3 separate regions of the Homo sapiens genome follow, and regions 1 and 2 are each linked to region 3. Evidence: fine-mapped expression QTL. A gene starts in region 3. Each other region holds a variant in brackets. All regions are shown on one strand. Distances are from middle to middle.

Region 1 (4,152 bases), 120 kb before region 3:
AGTGTTCAAAGTAATTGCATTTCTTTCCCATTTTTATATAGTTTAAAAATACAAATCAGTAGCTTCCTCTGATGGCTTTGCTGTCCAGGTCCCTCTGATTGCCTTTTACTCTAAGTTTTTCCGTGGGTTTTAAAGTCGGAGCCTGGCCTACGTAGACGCACGGGGTTTTGCGTCTCCCAGGAGCGGGCTCTCATTGGCAGTGCCACGTGCGCCTTGCGTGAAGTCCACGTGCTCAGCCTGACTGAGGCGGGACTTCCTCCGTGAGACTGTTGAGTGGCAGCCGCAGGGTCTTGACGCTGTCTCTTTCTCTCTCTTGTCCAGTTTTCCCGAGCACCCCTGAGCAGCCTGGCCTGCCATGTCCGGGAGAAGACAGTGAGTACTGGGGTTTCCTACGCCGGTCTCGCATGTTACGGGGTTGAACTGTTGATCCGTTGTGCCACGGAGGTGGCAGTGGTGCCGTTTTCGGAGGTTCACCCTCGTGGAGCGTCAGGGCAGGAGCAGCCGTGGTGACCGCAGGTGGGGTTTTCACTGCAGCTGCTGCCTGTGCGTGTTCTGGCTGACAGCACCACATGGCGGGGGACTCGCTTGGCTGGTTGGTAGCATGAGAAGTCCAGGGGTGCCCTGCCGTCTCCCTAGGAGGGAGGGGCCAGGTGGGAGGCTGGACACTGCTCCTTTGTGGCTGCCTCAGCTCACGACCACCCCTAGGCCAGTCGTCTGCTCCTCCTGGTCCCTGCTGGCCCCTGAGCTGGTGTGGGGGCTCCGTTCATCCCACACTGGCTCCATTGTTGGGAGAGGAAGGAGAGTGAGTCCCGGGGGCTGTGGCTTCAGAGGGAAGCTTCTGACCTCACTTCCTACTGCATCCCGGAGACTGTTGGGCCCTGAGCAGGTGGCTACGCTGCTCTCGGGCCGCGCATCCCATGGCTGTGCTTGGTGGGGTTCCACCCCCACTCTCCAGACCCCACACGGCCTCCAGCATCCGTGCCATGCCTTGTTCGTTGTGTGGGCAGGAGCTCCTGGACCGAGGCCGCTGCCTGTCCAGCGCAGGGCACGTGGCTCAGTGCCCTTCAGGCAGGGCTTCCCCCACCCCTGCTGCCAGGGCACACACCTCGCTGGCCTCAGGCTGGATGCTGGGTGTTGGCAGTGCCCTGTGTTGGGCGGGAACTGGGGGTGGGAGCAGATTCAGGCCAAGAGGGTGAGTGGGCAGTTGGGGCGAGAGTCTTGGCTTCCAGTGAGAAGTGGGGCTGAATAGAGGTTTGGCAGTGCTTAGCATAGGGGGCGAGAGTCTCGGCTTCCAGCGAGAAGTGGGGCTGAATAGAGGTTTGGCAGCGCTTAGCGTAGGGGAGGCCCCAGGAGCCATGGGATTTCCATGATCTGCCCGGGGAGAGGGCGGCGTGGCATCCCGGTTCCAGGCCCTCAGCCAACCGGGGTCCCTGCACCGTGGCCGGCAAGGCCGAGGAGCCATCCGGAGGTGGGCCCTGGCAGGAATGGAGCGGGTGGTCTGGGGCTGGACCTGCCGGCAGGAGGAGATGGGGTATGTCCGTGGCAGGCGGACACCACCAGGTGGTTTTGGCAGCGCAGGGCGAGTGTGAGGAGGCAGGGGGCGGGGAGGCTTTGGAGGCAGGTGGCCAGACGGTGGGCGTCAGGGCCCTGATCACCTACGCAGCTGCCCTGGTGGTGACCTTTCCCGGGACCCTCCCTCTGGGTGCCCACGCCTCACGGACCCTGGAGCACGCACCCTGGGAGGGCACGGTTCACTGCGTTTTTATAGATACATAAACACATAAATAGGACAGATACTCCCTGTGGGTGAGACGATGGTTGTCCCCTCCACAGCGCCCTGCAGCCTCATGCTGCTGCTTTATAGGAGGGGACCCACGGGCCGTGTTTATTTGCCACCTGGGTGATTTTTTGACTTGGTGACAGGACTGTGCTCCTCTGTCCCATGTGTGCTGAGACTGTGCACTCCCAGAGGTATCCACATGCGGCCAGTGTAGCCCCTGGGCGCGGGGGAAGCCCACCGTATTTCTCCGACATGTCTGCCTCTTGTCTCAACCCTGCCTGGGGGCCTGGGGTCTGCTCTTTCTGTCTACGACCTCGGCATTGCCTCTCTGCCCGTGTGGACAACCTGCCGGCCTTGCGTAGGGAAGGGAGGCCCGCATTTGCTCGGCCACTGCAGTGGAGGAAGGGGAGGTTGGGGGGTCACAGGATGTCCAGAGGCCTGAGCTCTGAAGGGGAGTGTGTCATGGGGGTGGCAGCCGAGTCACCGTGGGGAATGCGGAGAATGTGGCCAAGCCCCGAGGAAGGACCTCCTGGGACAC[G/T]TGAGTAGGTCCTTGAGATGTTTACCAGGGGTGGCTCCACGGCTTCGGGGACCACTCAGCCTGGTTGGGGACATTCCGCCAGAGCCTCTGGGGCAGCCTTTGCCGAGGAGGTCAGAGGCGGGTGCTGGGGGTGGGGAGCCCTGCCCTGCCCTGTGTGCTGATGTCCACCCGGACGTGGGTTGGGTTTCATGGCGCTAGTGTCAGGAGTGTGTGAGAACACACTGCCCACTCGGGGTCCCAGGCCACCAGGGCTTAGGGGGCTGGCGCTCTCCCTGATGTCCTGTGCTTTCTTTCACTCTGACTGTGGTGCTCATCTCAGACAGGACACCCTGCTCTGGTTGCCAGTGGCCGCCGCCTGGGGCTCTGTGGTTTTAGCGCCTGTGGGGGTGTTCACAGGTGTTTTTGACCTCAGGCAGCACTGCCCAGGCTGAGGGTCAGTGAGAAGGGTCGGACTGGGAGGTGTGTACAGTGGATGGAGCACGCCAGAGGCAGACGAGGGCAGGACTGCGGCTGTACCGTGGGCCTGGTTCAGACGGCTGGACGTGCCTGTCTCACCGTCAGCAGAGGACCTTCTGGCACATTCTATGTGTGTCTATATGAGTGAATTGGTTTTATAGATTTTTAAAAAAATTCTAAAGTATACTTACAACTATCATCTCTATGTAGTTACAAACCCAAAATATATTCAAAAAGGGAACCCCGTGCCCGTCATCGGTCACTCCCTGTTCTGCCCCAGCCCCACCTCCGCTCAGCCTCTGTCTCTGTGGCCCTGCGGATTCTGGACGTTTGGTGTCCGTGGAATCCTGCATGTTTGTCCTTTTGCCTCTAGTGGCTTTCACCCGCCTGACCTTTCCAAGGTTCATCCATGATGGGGCATTCTTGGCGCTGCAGATCTTTTTTCTATTCTGGTAAAATGCACATAACATCTATTTTTGCCATCTTAACTTTTTTTTTTTTTTTTTTGGCAGAGGGGGGACGGAGTTTTGTTCTGTCACCCAGGCTGGAGTGCATGGTACAATCTTGGCTTACTACTACTCTGCCTCTCAGGCTCAAGCGGTCCTCATGCCTCAGCCTCCCGAGTAGCTGGGATTACAGGTGTGTGTCACCACACTTGGCCGAGTTTTTCTTTTTGTAGAGTTGGGGTTTTACCATGTTGCCCAGGCTAGTCTCGAACTCCTGGGCTCAAGTGACCTACCCATCTTGGCCTCCCAAAGTGCTGGGATTATAGATGTGAGCCACCGAGCCTGTCCCCATCTTAGCCATTAAAATTTAAAGGTTCAATTCACTGGTATTCGATATTCGCATTGCTGTCCAGTCATCATCACCGCCCATCTCCAGAACTCTCTTCATCTTCCCAGACTCAGCCTCTGTCTCCATGAAACACTCACTCCCCATTCTGCCTCCCCCAGCCCCCATCACCCACCCGCCGCTTTCTGTTTCTGTGACTTTGGTGACTCTAGGGGCCTCCTGTGAGTGGAATCGCACAGGATCTGTCCTTTTGTGACAGCTTATTTCACTCAGCACCATGTCCTCAAGGCGCAGCCATGCGTAGCCTGTGTCACAGTCTCCTTCCTTCTCAAGACTGAACCGCAGGCTGCTGTATGGATGTATTTTGTTTACCCATTTCTGTCAGTGGACACACGGGTGACTTCCACAGTTTAGCTGTCGTGAATGATGCTGCTGTGAGCACGGGTGCACAGTGACCTCTGGAGACCCTGCCTTCAGTTCTGGGTGTAGACCCGGAAGTGAGATTGCTGGATCATTGATCATTCTATTTTTATTCATTTATTTTTGAGATAGCGTCTCGCTCTGTCGCTTAGGCTGGAGTTCAGTG
Region 2 (4,152 bases), 72 kb before region 3:
TCCCCCAAGTCCATTGAGTCCACTGGGCCCGAAGAGGGAAACAGAGACTCCTCTGGTACGAAGGTCCCCCAAGTCCCTGGAGTCCCCTGAGTCCACTGGGCCCTCGACACCCTTGGGTCACTTGTCCACCCTCACACCATCGCTGGCCCAGGGAATGGGGGTTTGGATCGGCCTTGGTGACTGTGGGCCTCTGCCTGAAACCCTGTGAGTGTGGGTGGGGTGGGCTGGGTCCTGAGAGAGCTGGGAGCAGCGGAGTGAAGGGGGCTGGGGTGGGGCTGGTGACAGTGGAGTCCCTGTGGGGGGCAGGGCTGGTGGACAGTAGAGTCCCTGTAGGGGCTGGTGACAGTGGACTCTGTGGGGCCAGGGTGGGGCTGGTGGACGGTGTAGTTCCTGAGAGACCGAGCCGGAAGGTGAGGGACTGGAAGCTTGCACACGTCCCTGCGGCCTTCCCCTCGGGTGCGAGGCCTGCCATCCTGAGCTCCCCCACCCTACCCCGTGCCCGCCCTGAGGGCGGGACCCAGGCCAGTTCACACAGCATGGCGAGGTAAGGGCTCAGGATGGAAGGCAGGAGGAAAGTTGGGCCTGCTGCACCCATGGGTATTGCGGCAGGGAAGGCGAGGAGGAGCCGAGGTGGGTGCTGGGAGCTGTGGGGCTGGCTGTGCGTGTTGGGCCTAACTCGGGCTGAGCTGAGGTTACTGAGCCCTCAGGAGGGTGCTGTGGGAAAAGAAAGAGGCAGAGAAGGTGTCTTTGGACCACTTAGGGGACGGGGAGGGAACCCCACGGCAACTGTGAAGGTCTGGGGCACAGCCAGGGAGGGTCCCAGGTTGACAGGGACAGGCGGGGTGGGGGTGCAACATGGAGGCCTGGGGCTGAGCCTCCGAGAAGTGATGGGCAGGATGAGGGGGCCAGAGGGGATCACGCAACAAGGGGTGCACCTTGGTGGTCTGGGTGTCTCCAGAGAAGCTGGTTGTCAGGACTCAAGAGGCGGACAGGGAGGGGCTGGGGTTAGGGAAGAGTGTGTGGCAGGGGGAGGAAGGGAGCCTGCTTGCCGGGTCACCTGGCATTGGGAGCTGTCCCCTGCCTGCTGCGCCCCGCCTGCCATTGTTGGAGTTCTCCAGTCTGGGCTGGTCTGGATGAGGAACTGGCGGGGCTGCTGCCGGCCTGGACTCAGGACCCTCACCCTCCAGCCCGCACCCTCGACTCCCCACCAGCCAGACCCTCTGTCCTGGTGTGGACAGCACCCACATCCTGGCTCCACCCTTGTTTCTTGCCCTTTGACCTACAGCCTCAGGACGTGCAGGAGGGAGGTACGTAGGCACTTGTGGGTCCGGCCTCCTGACCGACCGTCCATCCACCACCAGGCTTCTGGATGTTCACCCATGTGGGAGAGACGGGTGTCGGGGAAGGGACCACAGCTTCCTTTCAGAAGACCCGGGAAGGGCAGTGCCGTGTGCCAGCCTCCCAGTTGGCACCTTCCTTTCACCTTAGTCGTCTTCGAGGCGATGTTTCCTCGGGACAAGTCATTTTCATGAATCTGCTGTAAAACGTCTCCCAAACTCCAAGTGTTTCCCAAACTGAGTGAAAATCGCTGCAGAATGTGGTTTCCAGCAGAGCTTTTCCCCTCTCCTTCCTTCACCTCTGCCTGGGTTACAGGGTGCGGGTTCCAGGAGTCTGCCTAGAAGGCAAAAAACAGGCTTTGCTTAGAATCCCCTAAATTGCTCATAAAACACAGTGTTTGACGTTTATGTGTAGACATGATCCTTATGTGGGTTAAGCTGAGGCCCCTGCCCCAGTGACACAGAGGCCTCAAACGGCACAGTGCACCTTCTGTCCGAAGCAGCCGGCGAGGCGGCCCGCGAACCTCTGACGTGCTCCATTGCAATGAGGATGAACGAGCCTCAGGCGGAGGGTCAGCCTGGAACCCCTGCCCCGTGAACACCAGCCAGCTTCATGCTGAGGACCCCTCAGTCCAACCCAGAGGCCCATGCTGAGGTCCCGGCATGGGGGACTGTGGGGTGCAGCCGCCGCTTGGAG[C/T]GGAGGTGAATGGGACCCCACACGTTTCCTCCTCCTTCTCTGGATGCCTGTAATCATCACAGTACTCAAAAAAGGAAGAAGAAAAAGGTCCTTGAAACTTGCTGGAGTTGCAGTTCCGTTTTTTTGTTTGTTTGGTTGGTTGGTTGGTTTTTTTTTTTTTTGGAGACAGAGTCTTGCTCTTGTCGCCCAGGCTGGAGTGCAGTGGCGTGATCTCGGCTCACTGTAACCTCCACCTCCTGGGTTCAAGGGATTTTCCTGCCTCAGCCTCCCAAATAGCTGGGACTACAGGAGCTCGCCACCATGTCTGGCTATTTTTTTTCTATATTTGGTAGAGGCGGGGTTTCACCGTGTTGGCCAGGCTGGTCTCGAACTCCTGACCTCAGGCGATCCGCCTGCCTTGGCCTCCCAAAGTGCTGGGATTACAGGCTTGAGCCACTGCGCCCGGCCCCATTTTCTTTACATTTGTGACTTACAGTCATCAGCTGAAGGAAAGACAGTGGCTTGGCTAGGGCCTGCCCACTGCTGGCCGAGGCTGGCCGGGTCACCCAGGTGCCTGCCTCTCCTGCTCTGGAGCCGGGCACTGCCTGAGGGCCTGCAGCACCAGTCAGGGCCCCGGGGGATCCCTCCAGGGTCTCAGTTCTGACTAGCGAGTACCTCGATTCATGAGTATGTTTTTTAATGTAAGGTTTTAACGTAAGGTTTAAAAAGGCAGCCGCCCCGTTTCCTCCCCACTGGTCTCGCCTTCAGCAGTGATTTGTGGTGACTGTGACGTTCTCTTCGGTGGGCTGCCTGTGGATCGCCAAGTATGTGCTCCTGCTGCTTCTACCTGATGTCTCCCCATCTTGGGCTTTGAGGGGGGCTCATCCGGGGCATTCATATTTTCTGCCCGAGTTCGCTCCTGACCCAGGGCAGGTGGAAGCCAGCAGGTGAGGACCAGGGTGTCAGCCAGAAACTCGGAAGTGGCACAGAGGCAGCATCCGATAGCCCCTTTGTCAGAGGCGACCAGGGCCTTGAGTGAGCTGGGATGGACTTCTCTTATCCTGACATCCTGGAAGGGGGTGCAGCCTGCCTGTCTGTGTCCCAGTTGAGTTGGCAACATTTTTTGTCTTTCCTCATGATGCACGAAGTAGTGGTATCTCTGAGAGCCAATGGCAGCCTAGCTGCCGTGGAGAATGCTGGGGGGTGGGTGAGAGTTGGGGCACAGAGGACTCATGGGGCAGAGGCTGTGGTCCAGTCCTTGTGGGGGTGACTCCAGGGATGGCAGGTGGGTGGTGTGGCCAAGGAGGAGGGAGGTCAAGGCACTGGTGTTGGGGCAGGGAGAAGGGACCGCAGTGCCCATGTGTTTGAGGGAGGGGAGATGATGGTGTGGGAGTGTAGAGAGGGCGGGGGCCCAGCCCACAGCATCCATGCCCTGGGGATTGGGTGCCACCGGTCAAGGGCTCCACGGGGCTGGCTCTGGGGGAGGGAGAGCGGGCGCCATGTTGTGTGTGTGGTGCGTGTGGCGCGTGGGTGAGGGTATGGCCGGCTGCGTAAGTTTGTGGAAGCGTTCGGAATGCTCAGGAGATAAAAACAGCAGAGGGCTGCACCCCCCCACCCTCCCACCCCAGCTTTTCTCCAGGAGGACGCTCCGTCGTGGCCTGGGAGGACGTGGAAGGAGGGACCCCGGATGCAGGGCAGGTTCGTCTTGTGTGTTGAGAACGTGCTCTCCAGGGATCTGTGTTAATACAGGTAGCCCAAGCACAGTGTCCAATGAGGGAAGGAACATTTGAAACAGAAGAGATGACTTATTTTGTTGGACAAAAAAGGAATATGGTGGACATTAATTCTTAGAAGAGGTTTTATTTGAAACAAGTCACAAAAATAATCAAACAGCAGGTTGACTTTGGAGTTCAGCTCACAAAAGTTAAGCTTACAGAGCAAATAAAATAAGCTGAAGAAAAAGATAAGATGACTGGGCGCAGTGGCTCACGCCTGTAATCCCAGCACTTTGGGAGGCCGAGGCGGGTAGATCACGAGGTCAGGAGTTTGAGACCATCCTGGCTAACACGGTGAAATCCAGTCTCTACTAAAAATACAAAAATTAGCCGAGTGTGGTGGTGGACACCTGTAGTCCCAGCT
Region 3 (4,152 bases):
CCCCTCCTGCCCTGCATTTTCCTGCCAAGCAGCACCTGAGACTCTGAAGCCGATGCCTATACAGGCAGAAACCTGCCAATTCCAGCTTGAACGACTGGAGGGTCCTGAGGATGGGGGTCCCTGGGGTGCCATCATGGGCAGGGTGCATCTGTTTGGGTATGCTGCCCCCCAGCTGGCGGGGCACCGGGGACAGGCACAGCCACACTGGGGGCATTTCTGGTCTTGGAAGCCTTCTTGGCTCTTCCGGAGGGAAGGCGGCTGCTGGGTGCCCTGTGATCCACCCGCGAGCTGGGCTGTTCGGCTTGGTCTGCAGGGGCTGGGGGGCTGCATTTCTTTTCACCAGCTGCACCCACCCGGCCCCATCCTGGCTGGCACCGAAGGGAGCAGCGCGCCGTGACATCCTCCCCTCAAGCCTGGTGAATGGTGGTTCCATGAGGCTGGAGTCAGTGGGTGCCTGTTGTGACAGCTGGATTTCAGTGTTGGTACAGGAGCACACACCTAAGGGGCGGGCCAGTGAATGAGTGTGCGAGGGTGGGCTAGAGAACGAGCAAGGGAATGAGAGAGAGTGGGTTAGAGAGTGAGTGAGCCAGTGAATGAGTGAGTGAGCAGGAGTGGGTTAGAGAGCGAGGGAGTGAGTGAATGAGTGGGCTAAAGAGGGCCGGGCGCGGTGGCTCACGCCTGTAATCCCAGCACTTTGGGAGGCCGAGGAGGGCAGATGATCTGAGGTCAGCAGTTCGGGAGCAGCCTGGTCAACATGGTGAAACCCTGCCTCTACTAAAAATACAAAAACAAAATTAGCCAGGCGTGGTGGCGGGCGCCTGTACTCCCAGCTACTCAGAAGGCTGAGGCGGGAGAATGGTGTGAACCTGGGAGGTGGAGCTTGCAGTGAGCCGAGATCGTGCCACTGCACTTCAGCCTGGGAGACAGAGCGAGTCTCAAAACAAAAACAAAAAACAAAATTAGCTGGGCATGGTGGTGCATGCCTGTAGTCCCGGCTACTCAGGAGACTGAGGCAGGAGAATAGCTTGAATCGGAGTCAGAGGTTGCAGTGAGCCGAGATCGCGCCACTGCACTCCAGCCTGGGCAACAGAGCAAGACTCCATCTCAAAAAAAAAGTGGGCTAGAGAGTGAGTGAGTGAATGAGTGAATGGGAGTGGGTTAGCGAGGGAGTGAGAGGGTGAATGGGAGTGGGTTAGAGAGGGAGTGAGAGGGTGAATGGGAGTGGGTTAGAGAGTGAGGGAGTAAGCGAGTGAATGTCTCTTGGTGCTGCTGTAACAGAATACCTGAGCGAGCCTGGGTAATTTCTAGGGAGCAGAGTTCTTTCCCAGCTGTGGAGGTTGGGAGTCCAGGGTCATGGTGCCAGCAGGCTTGGTGTCTGGTGAGGCCTGATCTCTGCTTCCAAGATGGCGCCCAAACACTGCATTCCCCGGAGGAGAGAGGGGAGGAAGGCCACGTGTCCACATGGCAGAAGGCAGAGAGGAATCCATGCCCAAGCTGTCTTGACAGCTACAGGAGTTTGTCTGTGAGGGCGGGGCTCCCATCAGGTTCCACCTCTCTACACTGTTGCTCTGGGGAATGAGTTTCTCACTGTGAATCTGGGGGGCACATTCAGACCCTATTGTGGGTGAGTGGGAGAGCATGGCTGTGTCACTGGGACAAGTGGCCATGAGTCGGGGGAACTGAGGGGTTTTCAGTGTCCTCACCCGTATGTGTTGTGGCACCTGTGCCAGGCACCAGCGTTCTGCCCTCCCCGGCACAGGCGCATCACCGAGTCCCAGGCCCGCCTGCTGGGCATTTTCCTGCCAAGCAGCACCTGAGATTCTGAAGTCGATGCCTGGATAGGCAGAAATGGGCCGGCAGGAGGCTCCTGACAGACGGGTCTGTGCAGTGCCAGCGCAGGCAGGGTGCTGTGGCCAGGTCCTACACCTTTATGGTCAGGGTTCCAAGACGTCATGAGACGGCTTGTTCAGCCAGTTAGTTGTCGGTGCCCCTCTGAACAAGGACCCCCCCAAGGAAGGGGGTGGCCTCGCATGGGTGGCTGGGGATCCTGCTCCGTCCCACATGTGGCCAGCATGGCCGACACTGGCATTTCTCAGCTCGACAACAATTTTTCTGACTTTGGATATTTTCTAGATTTTGTGTTGTAAGAAAAAACACTTGGCAGTCAAATACTAGGCAGATTGAAATGCTGACTTTCTCACTGTTTCATTTTGTGATTGAAGTGCGTGCAAAACACTCAATCTGGTAGGGATGATGCCCGCGCGGAGCTGACCCTTCTCCTATTGTTTTTCCAAGCTGGAGAAGAAGCAGGCGCTCCCTCCATTCCAGCCACAGATCACAGACGACTACGGTCTGGACAACTTTGACACACAGTTCACCAGCGAGCCCGTGCAGCTGACCCCAGACGATGAGTGAGTCCCACTGGGTGCGGGTCCCTGGAGCACCCCTCGGGCAGCCCCATGGCAGGCCGGCACCTTGGGCAGCTGGTGACCCAGCCTGCCCTTGAGTCCCACCCGCCTGGTGTCATCTCTCCAGTGGGCGTTGGGGGAGGATTCTTATGCGAACGTGACTCCGCTTCCCCCAAGGGAATGAACACACGGTCACCCCCCTCCCCCCTGCCACCTTTGCCCACAGGGATGCCATAAAGAGGATCGACCAGTCAGAGTTCGAAGGCTTTGAGTATATCAACCCATTATTGCTGTCCACCGAGGAGTCGGTGTGAGGCCGCGTGCGTCTCTGTCGTGGACACGCGTGATTGACCCTTTAACTGTATCCTTAACCACCGCATATGCATGCCAGGCTGGGCACGGCTCCGAGGGCGGCCAGGGACAGACGCTTGCGCCGAGACCGCAGAGGGAAGCGTCAGCGGGCGCTGCTGGGAGCAGAACAGTCCCTCACACCTGGGCCCGGGCAGGCCAGCTTCGTGCTGGAGGAACTTGCTGCTGTGCCTGCGTCGCGGCGGATCCGCGGGGACCCTGCCGAGGGGGCTGTCATGCGGTTTCCAAGGTGCACATTTTCCACGGAAACAGAACTCGATGCACTGACCTGCTCCGCCAGGAAAGTGAGCGTGTAGCGTCCTGAGGAATAAAATGTTCCGATGATGTGGAAGCTCCTCTGATGCCTTTTTTCCGTGAGTGGCGCCTGCCCCACATCTCAGACGCAACCCACACGTAGGGGGGCAGCTTAGGAGCCAGCGGGACACAGGTGGGGGCGGGAGTTGAAGTACCTGTGGGGACACACCGCAATCAAGAATTGTTTCCTAAAAACCCCGGTAAGTTCCTGTTGTTCTTCCTGCAGAGTGTGTCCCAGCCGCTGTGGTCTAGGGTGAAGTGACACCTTAAGCAGATGGCAGCTGGGCCAGCCAGCTCACTGGACCGATGGGGGAAATTGGATCATAGAGATTCTAAAACGTGGCCCACCAAAGCACAGTAGACCAAAAAAGAGAAAAAACTGAACACTAAATCTGCACAAATCATTTCTGACCACACTAAGCAGTGCCTGCACGATGCCTCGTGCGACGCATTTGATTTTTGGAAGATATTCTTATCTGTCACACAGCACTGAGAGTTAGGGAAAACTAAAAGATGTGCATGTGACGGACCCCAGCCTTAAAGTTGAACGTGATGACCCTACAAACACCCAGAAACACAGGCACTCTTCCCAGCGGCGCGGACCTCCTGCTCCCGGGAACACACCCGCGCTCTCCGTCCACCCACCCCTCAGGTGAAGGCACAGCTGTCCAGAGCTGAGGCTTCCTAGAGGCAGGGCTGCCAGCTGCCAGGTGTCAGGTGTGGCAGAGCCGTCTTCTGAGCTCCCTGGGAGAGGGGGTCGCGCCACCTCATGCCTCTGAGTGAGGCCTGGTGCACAGGTGTGGAAATTGCCACGCAGCCCTCTTGGCCAGGCGCAGAGACCCCAGGCCTCCATGACTCAGGGGCCGCTCCACCCCATTGTGCGGCTGGTGGCTTGGGGAAGAGAGACGTAAAACCCCAAGTTAGGAGGTCTGTGCCGCGCCTTGCCTTGCCTCAAGGTCATCCCCAGCAGGTGAGCGTGGCCCACCCTACACACTCAGGTTTCTCAGGGTGCCACTCCGTGCCTGGCGCTCAGCACGACATGGTGGATTCACACCCAAGCCCCAGGTGCCAGGACAAGAAT

Alleles and levels. Alleles are on the strand shown, and positions count from the first base shown. SD is a standard deviation of normalised expression in the study named. Not every link is listed here.
For the expression in thyroid of the gene that starts at base 1,588 in region 3, allele G in region 1 goes with a lower level than allele T (moderate effect, 0.65 SD a copy in GTEx).

The links. PIP is the estimated chance that this variant, and not a neighbour inherited with it, causes the effect.
Region 1: its variant is fine-mapped to the expression of PRKCZ-AS1 in thyroid (GTEx, PIP above 0.99).
Region 2: its variant is fine-mapped to the expression of PRKCZ-AS1 in whole blood (TOPMed, PIP 0.98).

The regions. Positions count from the first base shown.
Region 1 is chr1:2,059,220-2,063,371 of GRCh38, forward strand. It overlaps PRKCZ (protein kinase C zeta), which reads left to right. Exons shown (of 18, transcript NM_002744.6): 4 at 322-372. Among named protein-coding and RNA genes, the nearest start is that of PRKCZ, 11 kb to the left of the region's middle. RefSeq lists an enhancer at 4,010-4,152. The variant G/T (reference allele first, on the strand shown) is at 2,319.
Region 2 is chr1:2,110,511-2,114,662 of GRCh38, forward strand. The region is part of intron 4 of PRKCZ (protein kinase C zeta); the gene reads left to right. Among named protein-coding and RNA genes, the nearest start is that of PRKCZ, 62 kb to the left of the region's middle. RefSeq lists an enhancer at 1,988-2,037. The variant C/T (reference allele first, on the strand shown) is at 2,035.
Region 3 is chr1:2,182,288-2,186,439 of GRCh38, forward strand. PRKCZ-AS1 (PRKCZ antisense RNA 1) reads right to left here and starts at 1,588. Exons shown (of 2, transcript NR_146290.1): 1 at 1,284-1,588; 2 at 1-454. It overlaps PRKCZ (protein kinase C zeta), which reads left to right. Exons shown (of 18, transcript NM_002744.6): 17 at 2,296-2,411; 18 at 2,635-3,108. The coding sequence ends at 2,722. It also overlaps a transcript of FAAP20 not described here.